Linked DNA regions of Homo sapiens. The protein of the gene in region 1 purifies or fractionates together with the protein of each later gene. This does not show direct contact. Each region holds a gene or a part of one and is shown in the gene's direction. Other genes may lie near its edges.

Region 1 (2,410 bases):
TCACCTTTTAAAATAATCAAACATATTTATCTTTTCCTGTGTGATAGGTTTTTTTCTGTATCTTTTCCTGTTAAACACACAGACCCCTCCCCAATCTGGACATTGAATAAATATTCATTTTCCTTTGCATTGTTTGGGGTTTGGTTTTATGCTTACTGTGTCTCTCCACCCCATTATCAGAGTAATATATGCTCATTGCATAAAATCTGGAACATGTGAAAACTGGAGATGAAAAGAAGCCCAGCATTTGAGACATACCCACTGCTGACATTTGTATATTTCCTTTCATTCTTTTACCTGCCTAAAGACATATATGCAGATATGGACATATTTAGCTTTACATACATGCAGACTACCACATATAATCTATATCTTGTTTTTTTGATCTAACACAATGTTAGCTTGGTTTTTTATGTCATTGACAGTTCTTGATTAACAGCTGTAATGGCTGCACAGCCCTGCTTCATTAATTTTTTTTTTTGGACTGAAATGTATGTACCACGTTCCGCTTATCCATTCATCCACCAGTGACCACTTGGGTCATTTCTACCTTTTGGCCATTGCAATAATGTTGCTGTCAACAAGGATGTACAAATATCTGTTCGAGTCCCTGCTCTTAATTGTTTTGGGTATACACCCAACCTACATTAATCTTTAATCACTTAAGATGTTGGGGTTTGTGCTGGGAGGTAACCAAGTGACTCTGGAGCAGCCTCACCCTAGCTACAGAGGGAAACTGACTCTTCCCTCTCTGCCCAATCTTTTGCCGCCTGTCAGGTTCCCAAGCTGTCCATACCTTACTGTGTGAAGCGCTTTGGGTATAAACTCCCAAATAGAGGCTCAGCCCCTTTTCCTTTCCCAAGTCCATCCTGCAGGTTATAGCTCTTCAGAGGAATCTCTTGAATTCTGGCCTGGGATCTGGGATTAAAGTAGAACCCAGGGTGTCCCTTGGGGCCTTAGGCATAGCCCGTTGTGGTGGAACCTGCCATCAGCCCCACTGCACTCAGTGGTCCCCTGGTACTTCAGGACAGTTTCTCTCTTCTGCACATGAGAACTTCAAGCAGAGAGGACTGTCAGTTGTTGCCTTCACATCACCAATCGTTTGGCCATAATGGCCAAGAGCCCTCACTGCTCTTGGGTCTTGCCTTTCCACATGTTACTGAAAGCTCCCGTTGGTGTCCCTGTCCACTAACTCACCTGATGGGACAGATGCCACTTTCCTCTGAGTGTCTGATAAAACACAGTCTGTTGTGGGGAGCCCACGCTCAAGGGTTTTCTTTGGGATCAGAGTTTCCCGGCTATTACTCCATGCCCTGCCTGACATCACTGTCATGTATGGTGCTAATCACCAAAGGATGCCCTTGTTTGATTCTGGATTCTAGGTGATAGTCCTTATCCTCTGATGGGGGAAGAGTTTGGGTGGGAGAGAACAAACCGACAAGTTGGTTCCAGATGAGGTGGCTGGGAGCCAACCCTCAGGTACTTGGCTCTGAGTAATGTGACGGCCCAGGCAAGAGGGCTCCCACTGCCAATGAGGAACAAAAGCTCAAGGTCTAGTAGTGTATTCAGCACATGCTAGGAAACAAGAGTTGGGACGTGGACAAGGAGAGGAGCAAAGGCCAGGGGTTAACTGCTTTTGGTTTTTCCTCTATAAAAGTCAGGGACTATGATTTATATGGGTGAGAAGGTTTGGAGTAGGACTGAAGCTGCCATTTACAAACCCCTTGCCCTAATTTATTGTAGTTTTGGGTGTGTTTCTGAAAGAACCTTTTGCAGGTGATTTTTATTCAGTACTCATTAACTTACAGCTTTTATGAATTCACATCTTCTACACTATTGAAAAACATAAGTTTGTATTGTGTTAAGTGCAGCATGAGTTATTATATGAATAAATCACATTAAATTTGCCATTATCGTGTGTGCAATTCTTGCTGCTGGTTTGGGACCGCTTGGTGCTGCCTTAAAATAAAAGGAGCCATTTAACAGAGCTTGATACCGTGGTACAGGTGTGCCCCCTTAAAGTATCCAACCTGTTCCTCCCCATGTGAGGGCCAAGGCAGCTGTGGTGTGGGTTTTATTAGGGAGTTGAATTCTTGAGGGTAGATGGTGAGTTGCACTTGACCATAGACACACTTTTCTGGGCAGTGGTATGTCTCTCAGCTTGCCCTGCAGTTACAGTACAGAGACTCCCCAGAAAGAAAGAGGAAGTGGGCTGACCAATTAGGTAGGCTTAGGGAAACCATATATGCAATAGCAACAAGGTAAAGGAAGCAAATTAGTGGGTTCTTGGGGTTCCAACTGGAAATTTGCCTGTTTAGTGGTCTTGGCTTAGTGTCTTCATGAGCCTTAGTTTATCTTTTTCTACCTATCCTACTGGTTTCGACTAAAAATTCGGAAGGCAGTGCTTCTT
Region 2 (3,980 bases), on another chromosome or scaffold:
TCTTTTTTTTTTAAATTTAAATGGGAATATAACACAGTTTTCCCTTCCATATTCCTCTCTTGAGTTTATGCACATCTCTATAAATCATTAGTTTTCTATTTTATTACATAAAATTCTTTTAGAAAATGCAAATAGTGAACTTTGTGAATGGATTTTTCCATACTCATCTACAATTCCTCCATTTTAAATGACTACTTTTATTTTTTAATTTAAAAAATCTACTTCAGTATCATGAGTAGGTCTTACATCAGTGATGGGTTCTTTTTGTAGTGAGACATACAAATCTGATGTTAATGTTTGCTCTTAGAAGTCATACTCCATGGTCTTCAAAGACCAAAAAATGAGGTTTTGCTTTTGTAATCAGGAAAAAAAAAAATTAATGAACCTTAAAAAAAAAAAAAAAGGTTTTGAAGGGAAAAAAAGTGGTTTCACACCTCTTGTTATTCCTTAGAGTCACTTCAAGGCCTGTTTGAATGTGGCAGGTTAGAAAGAGAGAGAATGTCTTTCATTTGAAGAGTGTTGGACTTGTGTGAAAGGAGATGTGCGTGTTGGAATCTGCTTTTCCAAGCCGCCAGGGTCCTGACGGCAGCAGGACGAAGCCTGTTGTGGCGTCTTCTGGGAAAGCCTGACCGTGTGTTCGGACGGCACTGGCTCCTTTCCGAAGTTCTCAGTAACTGAGCCCAGAGTAACTGCACGCCTTTGTGCAGCTCTGGAGCTCCACCAACTCTCGGCCTGCCAGTTCTCAAGCGAGCTAATCTTGTCATTAATCGATAGAAGCTAACTTCCGAAGTTAGGACCTAGTTACTTTGCTCTCAACATTTAAAATAATGCAGTTGCTCTAGTGAATGGGGCGTTAGGGGCCTGTCTCTGCACCTGTCTGTCCATCTGCATGCAGTATTCTCACCCATGTTGAATGCCTGCTGCTTGTTTACCCTTTGGAAACCCTGGGGTGACCAAGGTTTGGAAAGCCACCTGAGACCACTTCATAGCAAGGGAAGGCTTTAAGCAGTTACTAGAAAGAGATGGGGATTTGGCCCCTGGCTCCTCCAGCCTGAATGAGCTATTTAATCCACTGTCCATGTTCCTCATCAGTCAAATCCAAAGTCAAAGGATTTGAACCTGCATCTGGAAACGTAACCACTCACAGCACCTGGCCCGCCAAGGTTGGGAGGATTGTACACTACTTTCATTTAAAGGGGAAAGTTTGATAATACGGAATTAATTAATATGAATGAGATGCATTAATAAGAACCTGAGCATGCTGAGAGTTGCAATTGTTGGTTTTCTGGTTTGATTGATTTCCTTTTTTCTTAGACACATCAAAGTCAAGAAAGATGGTTTTACCTTTACTGACCCAGCTGTACATATGTATCTAGACTGTTTTTAAATGTCTTTCTTCATGAATGCTTCATGGGGCTCCAGGAAGCCTGTATCACCTGTGTAAGTTGGTATTTGGGCACTTTATATTTTTCTAAAAACGTGTTTTGGATCCTGTACTCTAATAAATCATAAGTTTCTTTTTAAAAATTTTCCAAAACTTTTCTCCATTTTAAAAAGCCCTGTTATAAACGTTGAACTTTCACAATGTTAAAATGTTAAATATTTGGATATAGCAACTTCTTTTCTCTTCAAATGAATGCCAAGATTTTTTTGTACAATGATTAATAAATGGAACTTATCCAGAGAAACCACGCAAATGGCCTGCCCAATTTCGTTTGAGGACAGAAAGCCCAGCCATGACTTGAGTAGAATGTCTCTCACCTCTCTTCGGATCTAAATATGAAAAGTATGTTCTGCTGAATTTTTCTGAGCATTGGTGAGCGGACAGCCTACCTGTAAACCATGACCTCCTTGCCAAACGTTAATTTTATCAGCTCACTAGTAACCTTTGAGAATTATCTGGTTGTCATGCAAAGATTGCACTTTCTGAATTATGTTAAAACACATGTTGTAAAATGAGAACTGCTCATGCTTTGAAAGAAAACCAGGTTCTTCGTGCGTTCTGTTGCCGTTGATTTGAATGGCTGTGCTGTATACGATGTGTCCAGAATGTCTTCAGAGCACTGTTTCCGTGTGATGTTACTACCTACTATGTGGGAGGAAAAAAGGTTATAGGTTAAACAAAGTCAATTGACTCTATGGTGGTGTTTCTCAATACCTGTGACGCACAGTACTGTGCGTCGTGACTTTCTAAGAGAAGTGTGCAGCGGGTGTGTCATCTTGATATATGAAACCCTGGAATTTCCCTCCCCTACACGCACGCACCGTCCCCGGGGGTCCGGTGTTTGCAGACATGCTTTGAAAAGCTGTCTCAGTGAGACATCAGTTATGTCCAAAATGAGTTTACCTTAGAATCAGACCGGTTTTGCCAGGCGTCATGTTTGCAAACATTATCCACCTAATCAGATTTTGAAAGGCCGGCTTTCATGTCGCCTGCCTGAGACTCATAACAGATCCCCATTATAAGCGCGTTTACACAGCAAAATGATTTTATTGAGAAAACCAGCATTAAGTACTGTTGCCGGCTCAGTTTTCCATTGCATACTATCTACTTAAAGTCCCGTTCTCATTTGTAAGTGTTCCGATCTTTCCCCACGGAGAAAACTGAGCAGAGCTGCCGTGTCGCAGGCTTTCTGCTGCTGATGTCGCATCTCTTTGCTTTCCCCTCCTTAGTCCATACTCCAAGTAAGTGAACTCAGACTACCAGCAACTTTTTAACTGAAAAGTATCTGTCCATGATGATCAAGATGCAGCTCTTCGTGTTTTTATTTTGTCTTTTTTTTTTTTTTTTTTTTTTGGAGGGAAGGAGAGACATCAACTGGACAAAATGCAAAATTTGGATGTGGGACAATTGCTTTTTGGAGACGTGAATAGCTGTACTGTACGTATTATTTTGTGTGGCATGCTAACTTTGAGCCGGGCACTGGCCTAATAAAGTCTTTGTAATCCTCCCAGCAATCCTATAAAGCAGACGCAGATAGTAAAGATTTTAGGCTTTGCAGGCCACGTACAGACTGTCACATGTTCTCTGTTTTTAAAAGTGTCAACAACATTCTTAGCTCAAAAACAGGCTGCAGGTGGGATGGTGCCCACAGGCCATAGTTGGCTGACCCCGGCTAGGGTGTAGGCACTTAGCATTCCACTGTATAAAGGGGAAACCCAGGTCATACTGCGTGTGCGTGGGTGGGAAGCCGGATGTGGAATACAGGTGGTCCCTGAGTCTCCAGGAACCACTGAGCTCCAGCTGTTCACACCCACACTCTGCGGCGCAAGCAACTACCTCGCCACGGTTTAGCCTTGGTCTAGCAGCGACTTTAACCTTGAATGTTGCATTTCTGAAAAATTTAGAATCTTGAAAGTAAAGGACGTCCCTCCGGTGAATAAAATTAGGCGCAATTATAGAATACATGTATTATGGCCACGTAGCAATGACTGTATTAGGGCTCTGCTAGTTCTGTAATAAATAGACCCGAAAAGCAACAATGGCTCAAACACCATAGAACGTTTTTGCTTCCATAATATTGGGCAGGGGAATGGGCTGGCAGGGCAGCCCTTATGCAGGCAGGCATCAGAGCAACCTGAGCCGTCCATCTCCATCCCGCCTGAAGTAGCGGGGAGCATGGAGGGCTGAGACCATCTGGGAGCTTCCATGAGCCAGGTGTGGAAGTGGCACCCCTTATGTCCACTCATTTTGCACGGAGGTGGGAAACGTCCAGTTGTGTTCTAGGAAAGGAGACAGAACACAGTGTGGGTGGAAGCTCTGGTCCACTGCACGGGCCACTCCAGTGTGCTCCTCCACCGCAGGAGACAGCCACGGACAGCTAAGCCAGGCTGTCCGTGGGGACGGACACATTTCTGCAGTCTCCGGCTCAGTCGCCCCTGCCTAAGTAGCACATAGAGGCAGTGGAGTTCCCTTCAGATGGCACTGTCTGTGTACACTCACGGTCTCCACCGCAGATGGCTGCAGCAGCGGGGAGCAG
Region 3 (3,500 bases), on another chromosome or scaffold:
ACAAAAATTAGCCAGATGTGGTGGCATGCACCTGTAATCCTAGCTACTTGGGAGGCTGAGGCAGGAGAATCACTTGGACTCGGGAGGCAGAGGTTACAATGAGCCGAGATTGCACCACTGCACTCCAGCCTGGGCAACAGTGAGACTATGTCTCAAAAAAAAAAAAAAAAAAGAAAAAAATCAAATGAGAGGAGATTTGAATGAGTCTTGAATGATGACAAATGATCAGTTCTTTTAGTGGGTACATGTCAGTTCAGTATAAACATTTGAGTTATGGACACACTGGGTTCCCAAACTGTAAGTTCAGGATCTAAGACTGCCTGGGCAGACTGAGTAGATCTGAGTGCCTCCTTTTTGGAATAAAAGAATTTAGAAAACTGTGTGCTATCTATATAAGAACCAGAAGGTAGACTGGAGAGTCCTGTTGCTTACACAAGTCACCTCTGCTTATCTACTCTGCTCAATTCCTAATTTCTCTCTTCTGAAGGAAGAAGCAGTGATATGTCTATTCCACCTCCCTATTCTGTTATTCTTTTTAGCTCTTTCCATATTCTCTTGGTTGGTGATCTGAAGCACGACCTTTCTATTTTATTCATTTAAAAATATTTATTAATTGCTGGCCAGGTGCGGTGGCTCACGCCTGTAATCCCAGCACTTTGGGAGGCCGAGGCGGATGGATCACGGGGTCAGGAGATTGAGACCATCCTGGCTAACACGGGGAAACCCCGTCTCTACTAAAAATACAAAAAAAAAAAATTAGCCGGGCGTGGTGGCAGGCGCCTGTAGTCCCAGCTACTCGGGAGGCTGAGGCAGGAGAATGGCGTGAACCCAGGAGGTGGAGCTTGCAGTGAGCCAAGATCGTGCCACTGCACTCCAGCCTGGGCAACAGAGCAAGACTCTGTTTCAAAAAATAAAAATAAAAATAAATAAATAAATAAATATTTATTTATTAATTGCTTTTAGAAATAGAATATGCTCATTATAGAAAGCTTGAAAATACATAGAGCACAAAAAAAGAAATGCTCTAAATCATATGCCCTAGAGATAATCACTATAAAATGGTTTTTTTTTTTTTTTTTTTTTTTTTTTGAGACGGAGTTTTGCTCTGTCACCGAGGCTGGAATGCAATGGCACGATCTTTGTTCACTACAACCTCTGCCTCCTGGATTTAAGTGATTCTCCTGCCTCAGCCTCCTGAGTAGCTGGGATCACAGGTGTGCACTACTACGCCTGGCTAATTTTTGTATTTTTAGTAGAGACAAGGTTTCACCATGTTGGCCAGCCTGGTCTCGAGCTCCTGACCTCAGGTGATCCACCTGCCTCGGACTCCCAAAGTGCTAGGATTACAGGTGTGAGCTACCACGCCTGGCCCCTTCAGTATTTTAAGGAAATATTTGACTGTATTATTTTTTAAAAACTCAGACTATTAAAAATGCCCTGCATCCTGTTTTTTTCATCCTTTAGTATTTTTAGCATTTTCTCATATCACAAATATTCATCAAAAATATTTCATAATATTCCGCTGCATGATTAGTCATTCTTATTATTTCTTCACTACATTACACACTACACTGTGATGAACATCCTTATATCATCTTTGTGCCCATCTCTGATTATTTCATCAGGTTAGATTTCTAAAAGTGAGGTTCTGACTTAAAGCCTCTGATATAAATAGTGAAATTGAGCCATGCACAGTGGCTCATGCCTGTAGTGCCAGCTGCTCAGGAGGCTGAGGTGTGAGGATCTCTCAAGCCCAGGAGTTCAAAGCTGCAGTGAGCTATGATGGCACCACTCTACTCCAGCCTGGACAACAGAGAAAGACCCCATCTCTAAAAAAACAAATAAATAGCGAAATTGCTTCCTAGAAAGGTGAAGTAGTTTAAACTACTATCAGCAGTGTGTAAGGTTGTATAAACAGTGCTATTACAAATATTAATTTCCATTTCATTTCTGTTATTTTTTACAAGTGGCTCTGCTCTTAGATTAGATAGAATTTTTTTGGCATGAGAAGAAAATTTAACTGTTTTAACATAATTTAACCATTTGTCTCTCACCCTTAAAAAAAATGTGTTCCTTGTTTCATTGACTTATGGTATCACATTTATACCTGAGTTTGAGCAAGTCTATTTCTTTGATTCATATGCTAATCCTTACATATTTTTTTCTACGCTGCTTTGATTATCACAGTTTTATTGCACATTTTAACATCCCATGAGGCAAATTCCCCTGCAGTACTTTTTGTCTTGTACTTTTTTCTGACTACTTTGACCCAATTCTTTTTGAAGATGAATTCTTCATTACCTTGTAGACTCATACAAAGTTTTGTAGTTTTTCTGTTTTAGAAAGACCATTAGAATAGGTAAACCATGTCAAGTTTATATGTATGTAAGTCAAAGAACAGAATATATCAAGGATACAAAAATGAGACTAATTTCATAAGTCATAATCTGGATAGTTGAAAAGTGACCACAAGTGAAAAGGTTTTCAACCCATGAAATCTGATTTTATGACCCAATATTCCATCAGGTATGTATGCAGAAATACAGTCAGTGTTCTACTTCTCCCTCAAAAAATCTTGAATAAAATGGCTACTGATAATGCTAAGATCTTAAATTTTGCACTAGGAAATACTGACTCATCTAGAAACTAAACACAACAGATTGTGCTGTGGTTGTTTATACTCAAAACGGTCTCTGCTGAACACAGAGTAGTTATATAAAAGTGAGCTGAAATTCCTTTAATATTAAATATAGGAAATGAGATCTCAAAACTCTTACAATACACATAATTTTAAGGTGCACAAATGTCATTGTCATTATAAGAAAAACTCAATATTGTAACTTTATAATTCATTTCACCTTTGTCCCTTTAAAAAAATGTTGACGGTCACATCAATGAAATTGTTTCTCCTGAACAGAGAGCTCTGAGTTAATAGATCCACACTACTTAGAGCCTCTGGGGTCCCACACTGGAACAGACCCTAGTCTCATACCCAGCCACTTCCTCATTTAGTTTAGCTACCTGGTGCCCAACTCTGCGGACTTCTGTTAAACCCGAGGCTCTGAGCCAAGCCCGATTTCAAGTTCTCCGTATAGTTTAGGCATGGACTTTGCAGCCAGACAACTTGAACTTAAAATGCAGCTGTGTTTCATCAGGCAAACTCCCTAAATGCTCTGAGACTCAGTTTCTTCATTTACATAATTGGGATAATTCCAACCTTATAGAGCTATGATGAAATGAGGTTTTACATGTGTTATGCTTTTGGCTTATTACCCAGAATATAATAAATCCTCAATATGGCAATTATTTGTTACACCTCTGAAATATCTCCAATAATTCAAGTAAGGATGCAATGCCTCAGTTGACTATGTACTATGGAATTAAGAAAGAAACTTGTGTGTTGTCTGGTTTTAAAACTGTTTTTTAAGGCATGTAATGTTGCTTATTTTACCTTTTTAATTCTCCCTGAATAACATTTTCTTTCTTCCACTCAGTGAACA
Region 4 (4,176 bases), on another chromosome or scaffold:
ACCAAGACGCATCTCCAGCTCCTGAGTCGACCTGCAGTACAGCGTTATTAGTCTTTTTATTTGCTTATTGCATCTTGGGAGCGCGTGGGTGGGTGAAGGGAGCGAGGATAGGAAGTCTATGGAGATTTACACCAGTTTTTTTTTTTTTTTAAACAAAAACACAGCCAGATAATTATTATTCTTCCCTTACGTCCCCCCAGCCCCCACCTGGGGCAGTCGCTCTCCCGGCTGCGTCCCTTTTCGTCCATGTCCTAGCAGAGACTACAGAGCAGTACAGAGGCTCTCGCTGAAACCAGTCCCAGGCTCCACAGAGTCAGATCACGGCTTCACACCAGTCGTTCTGGTCACTTAGGCGTTCGCGTGAGCGCTCAACCCCTTACCGCCACCTCATCGTCACTCTACACCATTCTGAGCGCAAAAATGTTTTGATTGAGACAAATTTAGACCAAGCAATGACCTTGTAAACAGAGAGAGGGGCTCAGACATGCTGAGAAATCCTTATCTCTAGAGAAACGTCTTTAAATGCTAAGTAAAAGCCCTAGCAAGTAAAAGCCCTGAGGCACTAGGGTGTCGGTTAGGGGTCACAGGCGGAGAGGTGGGGCGCCTGGGGGTTTCGGTAGGGAGCCACCCACAGATAACTCAGACAGCCAGATTCTGGGGGTCGTTCAGGTTGAAAGACTGGTCGAAATTACGCGGGCATGAGTCAGCGCATCCCTACGCGCCCTCCGCCCCTTGAGGGTGGGTCGCTTATAGGGAGGGGAGTAGAGTAGGGCAGGAGAAACTGGGCCAGGCTGCACTTAGCTCAAGGGGCCTCGAGGACTCTCTGCGTCTCTGGAGACAAGGGCACTACACGCACTTCAGAATGAAGAGTTGTAAGTCGCTGACCTGGGGCGGACTGGAGGGTGGGGTGGGGTGGGTGTTGAGGGGCACGCCCGGGCTGGCATCAGCCCTCCAGGCCACCCTGCCACTCACCCAGCACACGGCAAAATGCAGAGGACTACCTTTCCCTGGTCCGCCCCCTGGCCGCCCCTTGGGGAATGCAAACTTCGTGTTCTGCTGCGGAGCCAGACGCCTGTATTGGGAAGTGGGGAGAATCAAGGCGGGGAAATCGGACTTTTGGGTCGCTGGGGGCAACGAAGCCTGGAGAGGCCTTCTTTCCATTCCCAGAATATGTTTGCTGCTTTTTCCTCTCCCCACTGGCCTAAATGGATCGCTCCGCCTGTTTCCTCCCCAGCACCTAGGGCGCAATGGAATATTCCATTGCCCCTCCTGTCCTGGGTCTGTGTTGCGGGGAACGCTCGCGCGGTTGCCAGAGAAAGCCCCGGACGTGACGGATTTGCGCGACCCCAAGCAGCCCGCCCTTCCCCCTCCCATCCGTCATTCCCCTGCGCTCTCTTTCCTCACCCTTCCCCCCGCCACCGTGGGTTCCAGACTTGGGATAAGTAAACAGCGGGTGGAGCGAGGCCTACGGACCCAGGCCAGGTGGGAGTCTGCACTCTTCAAGGGGCCTGGGCTGCTGCTCACGGGTATTAAAGAACTCCGCGTTGTTCATGGCTGAGGCGATGCATTAGGAAGATCCTGGACCTAGAGAACAAGTCCCCCGAACGCTGAGTTGGAGGCGGGACTTCGGGTGCGCGTTGGTGCGTCAACGTGGTGGGGGGGTGTGTTTGTAGGGAGAGGGCTGGAGTAAGTTAAAAGTAGGCTATTTTGTGACACGGACCTGGTGTGGGAGCGAGAGGAGGTGGCTTGATTGCCGGGCGTCTGTTCCGAGGGAGGAGGGTGTTGCCATCTCCCTCACATGCCCTTATCACCCCTTTCTCAGGCGGGAGCATGCTGGGGCTCTGCGGGCAGCGGCTCCCCGCGGCGTGGGTCCTGCTTCTGTTGCCTTTCCTGCCGCTGCTGCTGCTTGCAGCCCCCGCGCCCCACCGCGCGTCCTACAAGCCGGTCATCGTGGTGCATGGGCTCTTCGACAGCTCGTACAGCTTCCGCCACCTGCTGGAATACATCAATGAGGTCTGGCAGGGGACACCTGGGTGCAGGGCGTTAGAGGCGTCTACTGTGGCAGGGGAGGGAGAGCGGGGAACTGAAAGCCACCCCTCTGGGCCTGCCCAGTTCCTCAGGGAGCTGGTGCTGGCGTGGGGGAGAGTTGGGGGACGGGATCCCTGGTTCTAGCAGGGTACAATAGACCTGTGGACGCGGGCCAGGGGGTGGCGTGTGGGAGCTTCTTAGCCTATCCCCGGTGGCTGCATTGCCCCCTTCCCACAGACACACCCCGGGACTGTGGTGACAGTGCTCGATCTCTTCGATGGGAGAGAGAGCTTGCGACCCCTGTGGGAACAGGTGCAAGGGTTCCGAGAGGCTGTGGTCCCCATCATGGCAAAGGCCCCTCAAGGGGTGCATCTCATCTGCTACTCGCAGGGTAGGCGACTCCCCTGCCCCTAACTCCTAAGCCCTATCTGAGGCTTGATCCTTATCTGAGGGACACTTCCTAGCGTCCCTTTTTCTGAACCACATTGCTCCAGGCACAACCCTGGTACCTGAGCCCTTCCTTTCTGACTTCCCTCAGCACCTGGGTCTCATCTCTGTCTTGAATGGGAGGGAGGCTCCCTACACTGCTGCCCTTTTGCTTCCTGTTACCCATGGTTCTTGGACATAAGGGCTAATGGGGCAGGTAAAAACATCCTAGAACTAGAGGCAGGAGGCCCAGCATCTAATTCGGGCTCAGTCACTTATATGATGTGTGACCTTTTGGCACAGGGTGTGCCTGCCTTCTGTAAGCCTCAGTCTCCTTTGTGTACAGTGTGTGTCTGTGTGTGTCTCTGTGTGTGTGTGTGTGTGTGTGTGTGTGTGTGTGGTGGGGGTGGGGGGTGCTGCTGGCTTTGCTGTCCTTAAGTGCCTGCCCAATGTGGTGTTCTGCTTACAGGGGGCCTTGTGTGCCGGGCTCTGCTTTCTGTCATGGATGATCACAACGTGGATTCTTTCATCTCCCTCTCCTCTCCACAGATGGGACAGTATGGAGGTGAGTGGGCACTAGACTCCATAGAATGCCCTGAGTTTTGGGGGAACAGAGGTTTATGGTCACTTAGCATTGCCATTCGCTTGCCAGACACGGACTACTTGAAGTGGCTGTTCCCCACCTCCATGCGGTCTAACCTCTATCGGATCTGCTATAGCCCCTGGGGCCAGGAATTCTCCATCTGCAACTACTGGCATGGTGAGTGGGGATGCTGAACTGGGGCTTCCATGGATCAGGTCAGTTGCTTCCACCTCTGCTACAACCAATAGCAGTGATGACAATAAAGATAACTTACATTTATTGAGTTATTTGAACAGGCTCTGTTCAGAATTTTTTTTTTTTTTGAGACGGAGTCTTGTTCTGTTGCCCAGGCTGGAGTGCAGTGCACCATCTTGGCTCACTGCAACCTCCGCCTCCCAGGTTCAAGTGATCCTCCTGCCTCAGTCCCCCTAGTAGCTGGGATTACAGGCAGGCGCCATCATGCCCGGCTAAGTTTTGTATTTTAAGTAGAGATGGAGTTTCGCCATGTTGGCCAGGCTGGTCTCGAACTCCTGACCTCAGGTGATCCACTCGCCTCGGCCTCCCAAAGTGCTGGGATTACAGGTGTGAACCATTGCACCTGGCCCAGAATGTTTTAAGTGTGTCACCTTATTGCCTTAGAAGGTTTAGTCTGATGTGGGAGTCAGCAAACCTTGTCTATAAAGGGCCAGAGAGTAAATATTTTTGACTTTGTAGGACATATAGTCTGTTTCACAACTCCTCAATTCTGCTGTTGTAGTGTGAAAGCAGCCATGTACCATATGTGAATGAATGTGCCTGTGTTCCAGTAAAACTTCATTTACAAAAACAAGTAGCAGGCTGGATTTGGTCCTTTGGTCACAGTTTGCCAACCTCTAGACCAGACCATGGGGCCAGAATACTTGGGTTTGAATCTTGACCCTATTGGGTGCCTTTGGGCAAGTTACTTAACCATTCTGTTACTCAGTTTTCCTTATCTGTAAAATATTATAGCATGTACTTCACCAGGTGGTTGTAAGGATTAAATAAATAAATGAATGCAATGTACTTTGAATAGTACCTGGCTCATATAGTAGATACTAGATAGAAGTACTTGCTATTGCCAGGTGTGGTGGCTCACACCTGTAATCCCAATATCTTGG
Region 5 (3,500 bases), on another chromosome or scaffold:
GCTCTGTCGCCCAGGCTGGAGTGCAGTGGTGTGATCTTGGCTCACTGCAGCCTCCGCTTCCCAGGTTCAAGTGATTCTCCTGCTTCAGCCTCCCAAGTAGCTGGGATTACAGGCATCTGCCACCATGCTTGGCTAATTCTTGTATTTTTAGTAGAGATGGGGTTTCACCATGTTGGCCAGGCTGGTCTCGAACCTGACCTCAAGTGATCCGCCCACCTCAGCCTCCCAAAGTGCTGGGATTACAGGTATGAGTCACCGCACCTGGCCCATGAGTCTAAATCTTAAAAGAGCAATGTAGCTTCCTGTTTGTGCCCTTTGTAGCCCTGATCTCAATATGGAGTCAGGCTACAGCAATGGAGAGACTATTTGTTGAGGGCAAGGCCCTGAGGCTAACTTGTTTTGCTCCCTGTTTTATCTCCCTATTGTCTAGATCAGAGACTGGCCAATAGTATTTGTAGAATGAATTAATGAGTGAATAAGTACATGTGGAGTATTAGGGATGCCATTTGACTTTTTACTCATCATGGCTTGCTCAAGTCATCCATTTCCTACTTGATACTACTCAAGACAGATGGAATGAAAATGGCTTGTTTTGTTGATGAGCAATTTTGGTAGTGGTGATATTGTTATTGACTCTTTCTGAAAGTTAAGTTTTAAATGGAAAATTAAACCAAAGTTATATTGGGGAAGAAAAAGAATTTTTTTTCTGTTTTTATTGTAAAAGCTGCTTTTAAAAAGTCTGTGATACTGGCTGGGCACAGTGGTTCATGCCTATAATCCCAGCACTTTGGGCGGAAGGCAGGAGGATAGCTTGAACCCAGGAGTTAAGGACCAATCTAGGCCATATAGGGAGACTCTGTCTCTACAAAAAATTTAAAAAGTTAGCTGGTCATGATGGTATGCACCTGTTGTCCCAGGTATGTGTGGGAGGTGGAAGGATTGCTTGAGCCCAGGGCTGCAGTGAGCCACGATCATGCCACTGCACTTCAGCCTGGGCAACAGAGCGAGACCCTGACTCAAAAAAAGAAAAGTCTATAATGCCCATTATGCCTATCTTCTGTAGTGTTATACTATGGGAAAATGTGGATCTTCTTTCAGTATCTTGGTTATGTCTTAAGTTGATGGTGGTAATTTTTAACACTAAATTTGCCATAGATTATATATTATATGTGCATATTTTTACCTTTTCACACTTTTAACCTTGTATATATTAGGAATGCAATTAAGTTTTTATTTTAAAATGATTACATTGTTTAATTTTATAGGTCCATTCAAAAGCTTGGTGAATTAAATATTGGAATGGATGGCCTTGGTAATGAGGTATCAGCACTCAACCAGCAATGTAATGGGAGCAAAGGCAATGGATCTAATGGTTCTTCTGTGACTAGTTTTACTACACCACCCCAAGACTCTAGTCAGAGATTAACACATGATGCTTCAAATATTCATACAAGCACTCCTCGTAATCCTGGATCAACAAATCACATACCTTTTCTGGAGGAATCACCTTGTGGAAGCCAAATGTAAGTGCTTGACTTTGTAAAACTTGGAAATATTAACTTACTACTAATGGTTAGAAGGTTGAACTTGTCTTTGGAGCCTTATAAATAAAAGTTTTTAGAGCTTACTGCCTACCAATTTTTTTTCCTAATCTGCCTTCATTTGTCTATATTCTCTTCTACCAACTTCTAAGTCTCTTTATAGTTTCCATTTTCCTTCTATTTTTCTTTTTGCTTCCTGACTACCACCAAGGCAATTATATTTTTTATAAGCCATCCTACTCAAAGAACCTACAGTTTTAGGATCTCTAAATCTTGATTTTCTTTTTTCTTCAGTTGGCATCTTTGAACAAATAATCTTAAAATTCAGACTTTCAGGGCATAGAAAGATGTTTTACAATCTGGTGGAATGATTACAGCTGCAGTGTTGGCTGCTTTGGCAATTACAGCAGTGGAAGACTGCATATTTACATTTTCACTATTCAGGGAAAATTTTTATCTTGCTATCATTAGTATACAAGTGTTAATTTATGCAATGGGAATAGTTAAGGAGCATTTTCTATATTCTTAGCATAAAACACTTTTCAGGGTGGTTCATTAAAAAATGTATAAGATGAGATTCCCAGCTTTTTGGCTGAGATTAAGTACAAAAATGTATAACTTGCTTTTGGCACTTGGATGCTTATAGGAATTCACTTTATAAATAATTAGTGTCAAAAACCTAGTTTTATTTCAGAGCATAAATTCAATTTTTGATTCTTTTCTGAATTTTTATTTTTTTACTATTTGCTTTTTTATTACAGCTTTCATAATAGTTGTTTTGAGTACTTTCAAAACAAGAATTCAGATTTTAAAATTTAATTTTTGTTTTTGTCCATGTAATATACATACATGGTTTCAAAAGACAAATAGTACTTCAAGGCTTAAAATAAAACCCATCTTTGTCCATGGTTTTATTTCTTATTGGCTGCCATTTTCAACCCATTTGGCTGTTTCTCTTGATATATATACATACAATTTTTTTTTAAGATGGGATCTCACTATGTTGCCTAGGCTGGTCTCAAATTCCTGGGCTTAAGTGATCCTCCTACCTCAGCCTCCCAAAGTCCTGGGATTACAGGAGTGAACCACCACACCCAGCCTTTTGCTATATATTTCCACATTTCTGAAAAACATACTTCTATTACTGTTTTGTTTTGTTTTTTTGAGATGGAGTTTTGCTCTTGTTGCCCGGGCTGGAATGCAGTGGTGTAATCTCAGCTCACTGCAACCTCTGCCTCCCAGGTTCAAACAATTCTCCTGCCTCAGCCTCCTGAGTAGCTGGGATTACTGGCATGTGCCACCATGTCCAGCTAATGTTTTGTATTTTTGGTAGAGACAGGGTTTCACCATGTTGGCCAGGCTGGTCTCGAACTCCTGACCTCATGATTCGCTCACCTCGGCCTCCCAAAGTGCTGGAGTTACAGGCATGAGCCACCGCACCCGGCCTCTATTACTGTTTTTGCTATCTGTTGATTCTCTACCATACTCCTCATACATAGCACCCTCACTTTGTCTATCCCTTATTTTCAGTATATATCAATTTTTGTTTAAATCAGTATCAGTGTGATTTTGTTTAAATCAGTATCACATTACTATGACCTTGTAAATGTTATTTACAACTGGGTCATGTAGTGCCATATGATTATATTTCTTTTTCATATAGCTTCTTGTTTTTCCTGGAGACAGTAATTGCCTCAAGTTGGTGTTCATGTGTCTGTACATGATGAGTTTTCTTAATATTTATCACTAAACTATCTGTAAGTGCTTTGACAGAATTATAAAATCATAAAACTTCTCTCATTATTGTAAAAAGTGTCAGAAATTTCTCTATTCCATTTTTTCCCCTTGGGAGATGTCCCTCCAGGATCACTCCTGCTTCACTTTATATTTACTGCTTTTTGATCACTTTATGTAGGTCTAGATAGAATCCTGGGACTTTCCTCACTGTTCTGCTGGGAT
Region 6 (3,500 bases), on another chromosome or scaffold:
CCAGGCTGGTCTTGAAATCCTGGCTTCAAGTGATCCTCCTGCCATGGCCTCCCAAAGTACTGGCATTGTAGGCGTGAGCCACTGTGCCCAGCCTCTATGTTTTTTTGAGATAGGTCTTGCTCTGTCACCCAGGCTGGAGTGCAGTGACACGATCATAGCTCACTGTAACCTTGCTCCTGGGCTCAAGCAGTCCTCCTACCTCAGCCTCCCAAGTAGTTAGTACTACAGGCATCTGCCAGCATGCCGGACTAATTTTTTCTTTGTTTTTTGTAGAGATAGGGGTCTGTGTTGCCCAGGCTGGTCTTGAACTCCTGGCCTCAAGTGATCCTCCTCAGCCTCCCAAAATGCTGGGATTACAGGCATGAGCCATGGTGCTTGGCCTGTATCTGTATCTATAGCAAATTGATTGGGATTTGTCAAATCTGGGATTGGTTGAAGACTTAACTCATAACTTCTTTTTTTTTTTTTTTTGGGAGAGAGAGTCTCACTCTGTCGCCCAGGCTGGAGTGCAGTGGCACGATCTTGGCTCACTGCAACCTCCCAGGTTCAAGCAATACTCCTGCCTCAGTCTCCCCAGCAGCTGGAACTACAGGCACATGCCACCACGCCTGGCTAATTTATTTTTGTATTTTTAGTAGAGACAGGGTTTCGCCATGTTGGCCAGGCTGGTCTTGAATGCCTGACCTGAGGTGATCCGCTCACCTCGGCCTCCCAAAGTGCTGGGATTACAGGCATGATCCACTGTGCCTGGTCCTGTACCATAACTTGTAAGCACTAAACCTTCCAGACGACTGATCTCAGGTGATCCACCCGCCTCGGCCTCCCAAAGTGCTGGGATTAGAGGCATGAGCCACTGTGCCTGGCCCTGTACCATAACTTCTAAGCATTAAACCTTCCAGATGACTCCACATTTTCTTACTCTCACAGTCCTTTGAAGACAGCTTTATTCTAAAGACAAGGAATTTGGATCTATTCTGGGTACTTTTAAACAATCTGAAGGTCTGCAAAATTTTATCTAATTGATGCTATCAGAGTTTGTAAAGTTCACTGACATAAAAATTATACCCTGATCTACGTTCTTGACAAGATTTCCTTAAAGGTTATTCTACTTGTCTCAATTTTGTTTTTTTCTGTTAGAGGAAAAAGTTTTAAATGCCAAGCTTTTTCTTTTTTAAAAAGAGATGAGGATCTCACTATGTTGCCAGACTGGCCTCGAACTCCTAACCTCAAGTGAGCCTTGCATCTTAACCTCCTGAGTAGTTGGTAATACAGGTGCATGCTACTGTGACTGGCCCAAATGCAAAATATTTCAACACAGAATAAACTAAATAAAAATGGATTCAGCCAGCTGTGGTGACTCATGCCCAGCACTTTGGGAGGCTGAGGCAGGTGGATCATCTGAGGTAAGGAGTTTGAGACCAGCCTGGCCAACATGGTGAAACCCTGTCTCTAATAAAAATACAAAAATTAGCCAGGCATGGCAGTGCACACCTGTAGTCCCAGCTACTCGGGAGGCTGAGGCAGGAGAATCACCTGAACCCAAGAGGCAGAGGTTGCAGTGACCCGAGATCGTGCCACTGCACTCCAGCCTGGGAGAGTGAGGCTACATCTCAAAAAAAAGGATTCAATTTTTTTTTTTTTTTTGAGATGGAGTCTCACTCTGTCACCAGGCTTGAGTGCAGTGGCGCGATCTCGGGTCACTGCAACCTCTGCCTCTTGGGTTCAAGCGATGTTCGTGCCTCAGCCTCCCTAGTAGCTGGGATTACAGGCACCCACCACCACGCCCAGCTAATTTTTGTATTTTTAGTGGAGATGGGGTTTTACCATCTTGGCCAGGCTGGTCCCCATCTCCTGACCTTGTGATCCGCCTACCTCGGCCTCCCAAAGTGCTGGGATTACAGGTGTGAGCCACCGTGCCCAGCCGGATTCAATTCTAATATGCTTTCTTTTTTCTTTCTTTCTTTCTTTTTTTTTTTGTGAGACAGAGTCTTGCTCTGTTGCCCAGGCTAGAGTGCAGTGGCGCGATCTTGGCTCACTGCCAGCTCTGCCTCCTGGGTTCATGCCATTCTCCCGCCTCAGCCTCCCAAGTAGCTGGGACGTCATGCTTTCATAAATATCCTCCACGTAACTGTTAACATAGTACAGTACAAGCATCTGACAGTTTTAAAATAATTTTGCTAAGATTGTGTGCTTATGTCTTGTAACTTTGTATTATTATTTTTTTAATTTTCAGGGGCGACAGCCAGTTTTGTAGTCAAAAAGCAGTCATCTATTCATTGAATTTTACAGCAAACCCACCTCAAAGAGTATTTGAACTTGTTGACCAGATTAATCCATCTATTTTCTGCATTCATATTACAAACTGTAAGTATTTGACATTGATATATTTTGTGAAGCTCTGGAAAATTTTTCTCAAAGTTATGGAAAAATGTGTCAGATTTATTTTATAATTATGATTATGGTTTTTTTGAGACAGAGTCTTGCTCTGTCACCCAGGCTGGCGTGCAGTGGCGCAATCTCGGCTCACTGAAACCTCCACCTCCCAGATTCAAGTGATTCTCCTGCCTCAGCCTACTGAGTAGCTGGGATTACAGGTGCCTGCCACCATGCCTGGATAATTTTTGTGTGTGCGTGGTTTTTTTTTTTTTTTTTTTTTTTTGAGACGGAGTTTCGCTCTTGTTGCCCAGGCTGGAGTGCAACGGCTCAATCTCGGCTCATCACAAATCCTCTGCCTCTTGGGTTCAAGTGAGTCTCCTGCCTCAGCCTCCCAAGTAGCTGGGATTACAGGCATGGGCCACCATGCCTGGCCAGTTTTGTATTTTTAGTAGAGACGGGGTTTCTCCATGTTGGTCAGGCTGGTCTTGAACTCCCGACCTCAGGTGATCCACCTGCCTTGGCCTCCCAACGTGCTGGGATTACAGGTGTGAGCCACTGTGCCCAGCCCTATTATTACTATTTTTTCTTTCTTTCTTTTTTTTTTTTTTTTTGAGGCAGAGTCTCACTCTGTTGCCCAGGTTGGAAAGCAGTGGCACGTTCTCAGCTCACTGCAACCTCTGCCTCCCGGGTTCAAGTGATTCTCCTGCCTCAGCCTCCCGAGTAGCTGAGATTACAGGTACCTGCCACCACACCCAGCTAATTTTTTATTTTTAGTAGAGACAGGGTTTCACCATGTTGGCGAGGCTGGTCTCAAACTCCTGACCTTAAATGATCCTCCTGCCTCGGCCTCTCAAAATGCCGAGATTACAGGTGTGAGCTGCCTTGTCCAGCCCTCAGTTAGATTTAAAGCAATTATTCTGTTTTGCTATATGTATAGTGTATATCTTTAGAGACCATTTCACAGGTAATAGGAAGTAACTTTATAGACCTGTGGGCATGCACATTTTCTTTAAAAGTAATTATGATTGTGTAGTTGTCTTTCGAAACCGTATACTTATCTTAAAAGTGTTTATAATATGCAGACATACATAGGAATCTAGGTTTCTATATATACATGTGTTTTT
Region 7 (3,500 bases), on another chromosome or scaffold:
GACAAAGCAGTGAACAAAACATACAGAAACCCCTGCTTCACAGAGCTGGCATTCTAGTTGGGTGGAGGCAGAGAGTAAACAAAACAAAGAAGTCAAATATGCAGTATGTTAGGTGGTGGTGAGTGCTATGGAGAAATATAAAGTCGGAGAGAGAGAGAGACACCTGGGACAAGAGTGGGGAGCTGCAATTTTTCCTGCGTGGTCAGAGAAGACCTCAGTAAGAGGTAACATTTGAGCAAAGACCTGGAGGAGAAGAGGAAGCAAGCCATGAGGGTACTGTTGGAGGATGGGGGGAGTACCTTTCAGGCAGAGGAAGTGGCAAGTGCAAAGGCCCTGAGGCAGAAGCACGCATGGCACGTCATGTTTGAGGAAGAGGAAGGAGGCCCCTGTGGCTGGAATGGGGTGTGTAAGGGGGCAGTAGTTGGAGATGAGGCCAGAGGAGCAACAGGAAGCAGATCATTAGGGCCGTGGTTCTCAACCTTGCTGCCCATTCTACACATCACGGGAGCCTTAAAAAACAATCCTGATGCCAAGGCCACACCCCAGACCAATTAGATAAGTGTTTCTGGGGCAGCACTCAGCTTCAGTATTGTTTAGAGCTCCTGGGTGATTCCGATGTGCAGTCAAGGTGAATCCCAGGAGAAGGGCTTCATAGGCTTTTGCAAGGAGTGCAGCATTTACTCTGTGAGACAGAGATCCATGGGAAGGGCTTGAGCAGATTAGCAATATGCTAATTGTCACTTGCAAAGGTGCCTGTGGCTGCTATACTGAGAACAGACCGAGGGGGCAAGGCTGGGAGCATGGAGACCAATTAAGAGGCTTCCAGGTGAGAGGCAGTGGTGGCCTGGACCATGATGGCAGCAGGGGAGGTGCTGAGATGGGGTTGGATTCTGGAAATATCCTGAAAGTGACCTCAGCTAAGTGTCATGGGGCCTCAGTCCACAGAGGAGCTGCAGAGACCACTCCTGGGTCTGGAGAGGAGCTGGTCTGGTGGGGGCAGCACACAGGGGCTCTGGAGAAGAGATCATCAGGAATAGGGCCCTCTAGTTCCTGCAGGGGACTTGGCCATGACCTTGGCCAGAAGAAGAGCCATGGACTTTTCAGTCAATCTGTTACAAAACACAGGCACAGCTCAATCCATATTTGTTCAAAATTAAAGGGAAAATGGAAAGGAAGCCAAGGAAAGGGTGGATTTTACAGATTATAACCTGGTTATAACAACAACTGGGATTCCCATAGTGCTGGACGTGCCGATAATGCCCTTCCCATTTGGACCACATTAACAGGGCAGTGAAGGTACGCCAGGCAATGGTAGATTCTTCCGGTTTGAGTTGAGGAAACTGAAGAGCGGAAAGAGTGTTGTCTGAGGTCACACAGTCAGATAAGCAACTGAGCTGAGCCTTGAGCCCATGTCTCAGATGCCGGATCGTGGCTTTGACATCGGCCCACCATTGTTTATTTGACTGTGCACAATGCTGCACAATGAGAGCGCATGTGGGAGCCCTTGATCTTTGACTGAGAGAAGCGCCCCACCCACTCTCACCTGTGGGAGGAATTTGCCTGAGAGAGGGAGGAACTCTGAAGGACTTTAGGTGGGCAGAATTCTACAGTTTTCTTCTGAGCTGCTGGAGAGGAGCAATCGTCCTTACAGAGAGACCTTCCCTCTGCACAGAACTTTACAGTCTGTGGAGCTTCCACACCTCCCCCGTGGCACCAAGCAACTTCTGTCAGCCCCTTTTTCCAGACAGAAAAACAGAATCTCTGATAAAAGGCAGAGCAGAGCCTCCTCACTCCTCAGGGAGGGCTCTGTGAAAGTGGCTTTAACAGTGGAGGGTTCTCTTTGCACATGTACTTGGAAGGCTCCGTCTAGCTCTATTTCAGCTCACGTGCCAGACGCACGCCCAAGATTGGAGAGCTGTTGGTGGACCACACAAAACAAGTATGTGCTTAGGTAAAACAGTGCCTCCTTTTGTCTGTTAATTTCCATAAAAACATCCCTGCCTTGTAACAAGGCCATTGCTTGGCTCATCCTTCTTAATTCATTTTGGAAACATCTTTTCAAAATTTTACTCTCATCCTATTTCAAACGACACTGGCAAACATTTATATAGGATAAGCCATGTTTTCAGGCATATGTTTGTCACTTAATTTATAAGAACTCCTTGAGTCTTCACAGTAAAACCTTCTGAGGTAGGTCCTATGATTAGCCTTCATCTTACAGAAGAGGAAACTGAGGCATGGGGAGATGATATCTCCTGCCCAAGGTCACTAGTGGCAGAGCTGGGGCAGGTGGTCTGGCAATAGAATTTGTGCATGTAACCACTGTCCTCACACTGCCTTGAGGCATCTATTTGTGTCACTCTAATGGGAGTGGCAGGCCCGCTTTAACAATATAGCACTGAGCATTTGCTGATCAGTTTTGGAGGGAGGAAGGTCGGCGTCTACATGTTGGAAAAAACTGTTTTAGTGCACATGAAACCAAGGCTTGTTGCCAAGGCTCAGAATGATGCCTGGGCTCTGGCTAATGTTGGGATTTGGACTGAGAGGATGTGGGTCAGCATGTGGAGAGGAAGCCCACAGTCACTGCAGTCTCTGGAAGATTCATGCTGTGTGGCTCTTGCCATAGCCGGAGCCCCTGTGCCTCTTGTGAATTCCAGTTTGCTCTTCGGGACTTCTGTTCCTGCTGCTTGTATTCCACACTTTGCTCTTGGTATTCTTGGCTCTTTTCTTCCAAATTCTAACCCTGATGTTATTCTTGGCTTCATTCCTAGATCAGAAAGTGAGTGTTCAGAATCCTGCCCACCCTCCTTTCTCTCACCTCTAGCTAGTCACTTACTTTGTCTCCTTTTTTTCTTGGTACTGAAAGATGTAATCTGACCCAGCTTGTCATGTGGCTGAGATAGGACCATGCTGTGCCAGTGCCTTATAGACAAGACAGGACACAACTAGAAGGAAAAACATCGGTCCAGCCAGTTGCTAGGCCTCGTTTATTTTTTTATCCAGCCAACATTTACTGAGCACTCATGATGTGCCCGGCACCCAACAAAGCGTCGGACGGATATCTCCTGGAGTTTACACTGAGATGGGAACCCAGACAGAGGTTGGTGGGAGGGCGAGTCTGCTGACCATTTCCCAGGCTCCGTGGCGGGGAGGACTTGTCCTCGCAGGCTTTTAGTAAGGCAGTGGCCTGGATGTGATGGTCACAGAAGCACTGTCCCTCTGGTGCCTCTGTGGCAGGGAGGCAGGGCCTGGAGGGTGGCATCTGCAAGGCACCTCTCTGTGGCAGGGAGGCGGGGCCTGGAGGGTGGCATCTGCAAGGCACCTCTCTGTGGCAGGGAGGCGGGGCCTGGAGGGTGGCATCTGCAAGGCACCTCCCTGTGCCGGCTTCCCTGGGGAGAGTTGTTTTAACAGTCCAGACTCTAGAGAGACATCTGGGATCTTTGAACTTTGGGGGGTCCTGGCTTCATGGATAGGCAGAATAATGGCCTCCCAAAGATGTC

What was found.
Region 2: the proteins of IDS (region 1) and FBXO21 purify together in Homo sapiens (affinity purification with mass spectrometry; 3 studies listed by BioGRID and IntAct, with this or other methods). This does not show direct contact.
Region 3: the proteins of IDS (region 1) and COCH purify together in Homo sapiens (affinity purification with mass spectrometry; 3 studies listed by BioGRID and IntAct, with this or other methods). This does not show direct contact.
Region 4: the proteins of IDS (region 1) and PPT2 purify together in Homo sapiens (affinity purification with mass spectrometry; 3 studies listed by BioGRID and IntAct, with this or other methods). This does not show direct contact.
Region 5: the proteins of IDS (region 1) and WDR47 purify together in Homo sapiens (affinity purification with mass spectrometry; 2 studies listed by BioGRID and IntAct, with this or other methods). This does not show direct contact.
Region 6: the proteins of IDS (region 1) and TCTN1 purify together in Homo sapiens (affinity purification with mass spectrometry; 3 studies listed by BioGRID and IntAct, with this or other methods). This does not show direct contact.
Region 7: the proteins of IDS (region 1) and GALNT18 purify together in Homo sapiens (affinity purification with mass spectrometry; 3 studies listed by BioGRID and IntAct, with this or other methods). This does not show direct contact.

The regions. Positions count from the first base shown.
Region 1 is NC_000023.11:149,476,488-149,478,897, reverse strand, and holds the end of IDS (iduronate 2-sulfatase isoform a preproprotein), read left to right. Parts: 3' UTR 1-1,910; downstream 1,911-2,410. UniProt on the Homo sapiens protein: Lysosomal enzyme involved in the degradation pathway of dermatan sulfate and heparan sulfate.
Region 2 is NC_000012.12:117,141,491-117,145,470, reverse strand, and holds the end of FBXO21 (F-box only protein 21), read left to right. Parts: 3' UTR 1-3,480; downstream 3,481-3,980. UniProt on the Homo sapiens protein: Substrate-recognition component of the SCF (SKP1-CUL1-F-box protein)-type E3 ubiquitin ligase complex.
Region 3 is NC_000014.9:30,881,059-30,884,558, forward strand, and holds part of COCH (cochlin isoform b precursor), read left to right. Parts: intron 1-3,451; exon of another isoform or gene 3,452-3,494; coding exon 3,495-3,500. UniProt on the Homo sapiens protein: Plays a role in the control of cell shape and motility in the trabecular meshwork.
Region 4 is NC_000006.12:32,152,765-32,156,940, forward strand, and holds the start of PPT2 (lysosomal thioesterase PPT2 isoform a precursor), read left to right. Parts: upstream 1-1,376; 5' UTR 1,377-1,640; intron 1,641-1,822; coding exon of another isoform or gene 1,823-1,830; coding exon 1,831-2,013; intron 2,014-2,265; coding exon 2,266-2,419; intron 2,420-2,923; coding exon 2,924-3,019; intron 3,020-3,106; coding exon 3,107-3,214; intron 3,215-4,176. UniProt on the Homo sapiens protein: Catalyzes the cleavage of thioester bonds from S-palmitoyl-CoA or S-palmitoyl-N-acetylcysteamine (unbranched structures) but does not have activity against palmitoylcysteine or palmitoylated proteins, branched structures or bulky head groups.
Region 5 is NC_000001.11:108,993,603-108,997,102, reverse strand, and holds part of WDR47 (WD repeat-containing protein 47), read left to right. Parts: intron 1-1,265; coding exon 1,266-1,523; intron 1,524-3,500.
Region 6 is NC_000012.12:110,624,129-110,627,628, forward strand, and holds part of TCTN1 (tectonic-1 isoform 1 precursor), read left to right. Parts: intron 1-2,233; coding exon 2,234-2,364; intron 2,365-3,500. UniProt on the Homo sapiens protein: Component of the tectonic-like complex, a complex localized at the transition zone of primary cilia and acting as a barrier that prevents diffusion of transmembrane proteins between the cilia and plasma membranes.
Region 7 is NC_000011.10:11,444,006-11,447,505, reverse strand, and holds part of GALNT18 (polypeptide N-acetylgalactosaminyltransferase 18), read left to right. Parts: intron 1-3,500. UniProt on the Homo sapiens protein: Catalyzes the initial reaction in O-linked oligosaccharide biosynthesis, the transfer of an N-acetyl-D-galactosamine (GalNAc) residue from UDP-GalNAc to a serine or threonine residue on the protein receptor.